Linked DNA regions of Homo sapiens: region 2 is linked to region 1. Evidence: fine-mapped expression QTL. A gene starts in region 1. The other region holds a variant in brackets. All regions are shown on one strand. Distances are from middle to middle. Region 1 holds the start of RPGR (retinitis pigmentosa GTPase regulator). Region 2 has its middle 60 kb from the start of MID1IP1-AS1.

The links. PIP is the estimated chance that this variant, and not a neighbour inherited with it, causes the effect.
Region 2: its variant is the best candidate, but not a certain one, in a credible set for the expression of RPGR in tibial nerve (GTEx, PIP 0.82).

The regions. Positions count from the first base shown.
Region 1 is chrX:38,326,148-38,329,064 of GRCh38, reverse strand. It overlaps RPGR (retinitis pigmentosa GTPase regulator), which reads left to right and starts at 1,556. Exons shown (of 15, transcript NM_001034853.2): 1 at 1,556-1,725. The coding sequence starts at 1,698. It also overlaps a transcript of OTC not described here. RefSeq lists a silencer at 1,618-1,867.
Region 2 is chrX:38,862,261-38,865,177 of GRCh38, reverse strand. No RefSeq gene overlaps it. Among named protein-coding and RNA genes, the nearest start is that of MID1IP1-AS1, 60 kb to the right of the region's middle. The variant C/T (reference allele first, on the strand shown) is at 1,419.

The sequences.
Region 1 (2,917 bases):
TTTAAAAATTCTCATTTGCCCGTAGTAACAATTATGATACTCTAAAAATGAATATCAAATCCTTTTCAAAATAATTTAGGGCCCTATCTTTGCTGTTGCTCTAAGAACTATTTGGTAGTCCAGCACTGTCTAGGAGTCAATAGTCAGAAACCATTTCCTGTTGATTCTAAGACCTAAAATATTTTCAAATCTGCCTGCTCCTCTCTGGCACCAATGAACTGTACTCCAAGCCATCCTGACCACATGTCTGAAATTCTGCAATAGCCTCTGAACCCTTCTCACTGCTCCAGTTTATTCTCTACAAAGCATCTAGACCAGGCAGAATGATTTCAGGGACACACATAACTGATCCTGTCCTGTTGTTCTACTGCCTAAAACTTCTCAGTGGTTTCACATTGTCTTTAGGATAAAATCTCAGATCCTTAATAGGCCCAAGACCTTGCCACCTCGCTAGGAACCAGCCTCGCCTCTTGGTGTTCCTGGAAAGAGTCAAGCTCCTTACAAACCTTTATACACAATTTACTCTCTGCCAAGAGCTCTCTCCCCCTCCTGGCTTATCTTTCTCCAGTTCTTAGATTTAATGTTCTTTCTTCAGATAAGCCTTTCTTAACCTCCTACACCAGGTCAACGCTTCTTGTTAACCACTTCCTTAGTAACCTCCACTTTGCTTTGTAAGTAAATGATTATTTGTGTAACTAATAGTTTAATGTCCCCTCTTCATGTTAATGCAAACTTCCTGAGAAAGTGTTGGTAACACACAAGAGTAATTCAGGGATCCCTGAATCCAATTGTGTCTGATTCTAGGGCCCATGTCCACAACTACCAAACGTACGTAAATCTGCTCATTCTGGAAGATGGCTTTTTGCTTCTTTATTTCATGATAGCCAAATGTTGATGCATGGGAAACCCTGCATCATATAACATCGCTGAGCAAATTCTAGAGCAATGATGTTGGGCTACCCCTTTGTGTATGTTCTGTGAGTAGTGGACCATATACACCTCAGCTTTTACTTTTGTTGACTACAGGCTGGACTAGCTGGACTAGCTGCCCACATGCTTAAACAGAGGTAACATTAACCACTTTACAGGGTTGTAATAGTACTCATTTGTCCAATAAATACGTAATGAGCATTCAGTATAGGCCAGATGTTGGTTTAGATGCTGGGGATATCTTTAGCAGAGTGCTTACCTCCTTTAATGTTCCAGCTGGTCACTATTACTAGTAGTGTCATAATTGTGTGTCGATGCTTGCTTATGTCACGGAGTATGGGATTTGTGACGTTTGCCACTCATGGGCAGGGTCCCTGCGGCGCCTGGACCTCCAACGGCACAAGGGCGCGGACTCCACAGCATCACTGCGCGGCGTGGCCGCCTCTCTGCTCCAGGCCGCCAGAGGGCGCGTGGTCTCTACTGCCCCTCCGCTGTGCCTGAGCCTGCCCCTTACCAGCCACCCGGCCTCCGTTCCCCTCCCCAACGGCGCCTGTCCCGCCTTGCATTCCCAAGCTCCGCCCCCGTTGCCCGTAGCGGCTGTTTGTTGACTTCCGGGAGCGCGGTTGTAGTTGATCTCCGGAGTTTCGCCATGCGGAACTTGGGGGCTTTCGCGGCCCGCGTCGGTGCGGAGTAGCTGCTTTAGCCCCGACCAAACCGTCCTCTACAGCCTCCTGGCCCCGGCGCAGGCTGCCCGTACTGCCCGTGGCATGAGGGAGCCGGAAGAGCTGATGCCCGGTGAGTTGCGCCCGCGCCGGTGGCGGAAGGCCGGGAGGGAGGGTCCGCGGGCGGCCGGGCCCCGCCTCCGGATCGGCCCTGTAGGGGGACAGGCCCCAGGCTTGGCAGCCGGACTGGGGCGGGATCGCTGGTTGCGCTCCCGCGAATGACTGAGGGCAGAGGACCGGACGGGAAGAACAGGATGGGGGAGAACGGGAAAGAGGGTGCCTGTCTTTCGTATGCTTTTTAAATAAGCTCTTGATGAGCTTCTTGAAGGCAGGGACACTTTTTTTTTTTTTTTATGAGACGGAGTTTCACTCTTGTTGCCCAGGCTGGAGTGCAATGGCGCAATCTCGGCTCACCGCAACCTCCGCATCCCGGGTTCAGGCGATTCTCCTGCCTTAGCCTCCGAGTAGCTGCGATTACAGGCATGCGCCACCACGCCCGGCTAATTTTATATTTTTAGTAGAGACGGGGTTCCTCCATGTTGGTCAGGCTGATCTCGAACTCCCGACCTCAGGTGATCAGCCCACCTCGGCCTCCCAAATTGCTGGGATTACAGTCGTGAGCCACCGCGCCCGGCCAGGGAGGGACACTTTCTGTAAACTCCCCAAAGTGCGGACTCCAGACTTGTGCACTTTGGAGGTCCTGAGCTCCCGGTTATGTATTGAATGCAGTAAAGAGTGAGTGATCAGGGCTGTGGGGTAAAAGGGGATACAGGAAATAAATTGGACAAAGAGGGAGAAGAGGGACCCTTTAGCGAGTGTTTTTTAGCCTTTTTTTTCCTGAGCTCCATAGTTAGAAATACTTTTGACATTGTGACCCGATACTCCATATATACCGTGTAACAGAAATAGATGTCTGGTGAAGCAGTCCTTGTTCTATCCACTTAGATTCCACACACACCTTTTTGATAATGCATTCTTTTAAAATGCTGATCGTGATCCACTGAATTGATTTTCTGGCCCACTAATAGGTCACGACCATTTTGAAAAAACACTGGGTTTGAGCAGAATCATACCTTCACTGAAATATGTATGTTTTCTTCCATGCTCCTGGCCGGAACTGACATTCCTGGCCTGCAGTTCACAATTTAGTGAGACATACAGGAAAGTAAACAAAATGACCATATAAATTGACAGTAGATATTACAGGGCCAGAGCAGAGCCACCAAACCTTGGCTTGGGATGAGGGTATCAGGGAAGCCAGGGGA
Region 2 (2,917 bases), 540 kb before region 1:
TAAAATTTAACAGCTGCAGACCAGCCCTCTGCTGCTTAATAGTATCCTGACAGGCGCCCCAAGTTCCATTAGAGATTGGCTCTTTTTTTTTTTTTTTTTTTTTTTTTGAGACAGAGTCCTGTCTCCCAGGCTGGAGTGCAGCAGCATGATCTTGGCTCACTGCAACATCTGCCTCCCAGGTTCAAGTGATTCTTGTGCTTCAACCACCCGAGTAGCTGAGATGACAGGTGCACGCCACTAACACCCGGCTTATTTTTGTATTTTTAGTAGAGATGGGGTTTCACCATATTGGCCAGGCTGGTCTCAGACTCCTGGCCTCAAGTGATCTGTCTGCCTCGGCCTCCCAAAGTGCTGGGATTACAGGCATGAGCCATTGCACCCAGCCAAAATGGGCTCCTTTGGACTTGACAGTGTTGTCCCCTTAAAGAGGTCACTTTTAAAATATGAAAACACTTGGGAGAGGTCCAATCTTACCACTCACTATTTTAGTTCAGGGCTTCTCAAATGGCCCACTGAAATGCCTGACAAGCATTGAATATGCCGATTCCTGGGCCTTGTCCCAATGATGCTGGTTTAATTAGTCAGGGCGAAGACCAGGAATTAACAGGTCATTCTTGAAAAGCTCTGATTAGGGGAAATAAAGGAGTGGGGAACTGGGTGCTACAGTTTGCATACAGTGAGATTAAAAAGCATTTGAAACAACATTGACTGCTTCACAGCTTTACTAAGGCCTAACCTTTGGCCACAATTATGTAGATTTGAAGAAATTATTTCCTCAACTTCAAGACTTGGCACTGACCGTGCCCTAAAAATAACTGGTAATGTGGAGTTAACTTGGCTGTGCTATCTTTAGAAATGTAGTTGCTACAAGGGCAGTTGCTACAAGGGCTGAAATGCATCTGGACAGATGTCTGGTATTTTAGAAATTCTAGAAAAAGGACTGAGGAAAGAAGGTCCTGCTCCCTCTGCCAATCAAGTAACCAACACCTCTGGTCTAAGCACTAGCTTACCTGCCAAAAAAAGATAACAACATAGTCCCTTCCTTCTATGAGCTCACAGCATAATTAGTTGGGAAAAGGGTGGGAAGGGGTTGAACAAAAAATCCACAAACCAAAAGAATGAACATCACAGGTAGAGTACGCAAAATGCCTTGCTGCTGTCATACATCTTCCAGTCACCCCTTTCTCCTCGTTTCTTAAATATTTAAGCACCTGGTTCATGACTTCCTCCACCACTGGCGCTATCATAATTCTAGTGGTCAAATTCATGACCAAAACTCCAACAGAGTTGATCCTTTCAACTCTCCAGCTTCTCAGATCTTTGACCTTTTCTCCTCCAACAATTGTGTCTCTGCCCTACCTCAGCCACTCAGCAAGGTCACACTCTAGACCTGTCATTACCAGTGACTGCATTCCCAA[C/T]ATATCTCAGTTTCAAGTTTCCCACTTTCCAATTACCACTTTCTAGCTTTCCATATTACTCTGTCGTCTCTCAACTCCAACGATTCTTGAATCTCATTGGGAGTTCTTATCCACTGATCCTACCAGCTTTTCACTCCCCTTAACCCCTTTGGTAGCTTTGCTTCCCTTCTTACCTGGCTTTGATCCCATCATAACACCCACTCCCTTTCCTACCACTTCAACCACCTCAATTCCCTCACCTCTTTCTCCTACCTTCACATCCCTATGCTGTTTAAATCCACCTTTCCACTTCCTTGGCACCGGCAAGCAAGGAGTTGAGGCAGCTCCATGATGACTGGTCTCACTTTAAATTCATGACCACAAACTTGAAGTAGGTCTGTAATGCCGCCTAGAGTCCCACTACACTTCCCTAGTCAGTCTATCCTTTCAGTCTCTAAAACAACTCTATCACCCTTTTTCTTCTCTCCTCCAATCTTCGATACTCCCTTTCTCATTTTCACTTTTAGCTGATGATCTTGCCTATTTCACTAACAAAAGTATTCAGAAGAGAACTTCCATATCCTCCACCATATATCCCAGCCTCTCTGCCTCTGTGATCATATACTTCATCTTCTCTTCTGACATAGTAGATAAACTATCCATGCTCCTTTCTAAAGCCAAAGCAATCTGTATGTTAATCAGATCCTGTCCCCTCCCAGCCTACTGAGACTTCCCTCCTGCCTGCTGCTGCGCCATGAAGTTAGCCCATCCTGCTAAAACACGCCCACCAGCACACAAACTCACTCTTATATTATGAATCTAAAACACAACAAAAACAGAAATAAAAATATTCTTTGACCCCATATCTCCCTCCACTTACTGCCTTGTTCCTCTGCTCCCCTCTACAGCAAAACTCAGAAGTTATTTCTACTTGCTCTACTTCCTCCTTTTTTCTTTCTTGCATTCACTCTAACAAGGCTTTCATCCTCACTGTCCCACTGAAACTTCACTTTTAGTATCACCAATGGTCCCTACAATTAAGTCCAAGACTAATTTTCAGGCTTCTCCCTAACTTGACCCATCAGCATCATTTCTCCTCCTGGAAATGTTTTCTTCTCTTGGCCTTCCAGACACCATCCCTTCTTGGATCACCTCCTATTTTTGTTGATTTCCCTTCTTAGTCTCTGTATTAGTCCGTTCTCACACTGCTATAAAGATAACACCTGAGATTGGGTAATTTATAAACAAAGGAAGTTTAATTGACTCACAGCTCTACATGGCTAGGGAGGCCTCAGGAAACTTAACAATCATGGCAGAAAGGGACACAGGCACCTTCTTCACAAGGCAGCGGGAGAGAGTGTGAGTGTGTGAGAGTGCAGGGAAAACTACCATTTATACCATCAGATCTCATGAGAACTCACTCACTATCACAAGAACAGCATGGGGGAAGCCACCCCCATGATCCAATCACCTCCCACCAGGTTTCTCACTTAACATCTGGAGATTACAATTCGAGATGC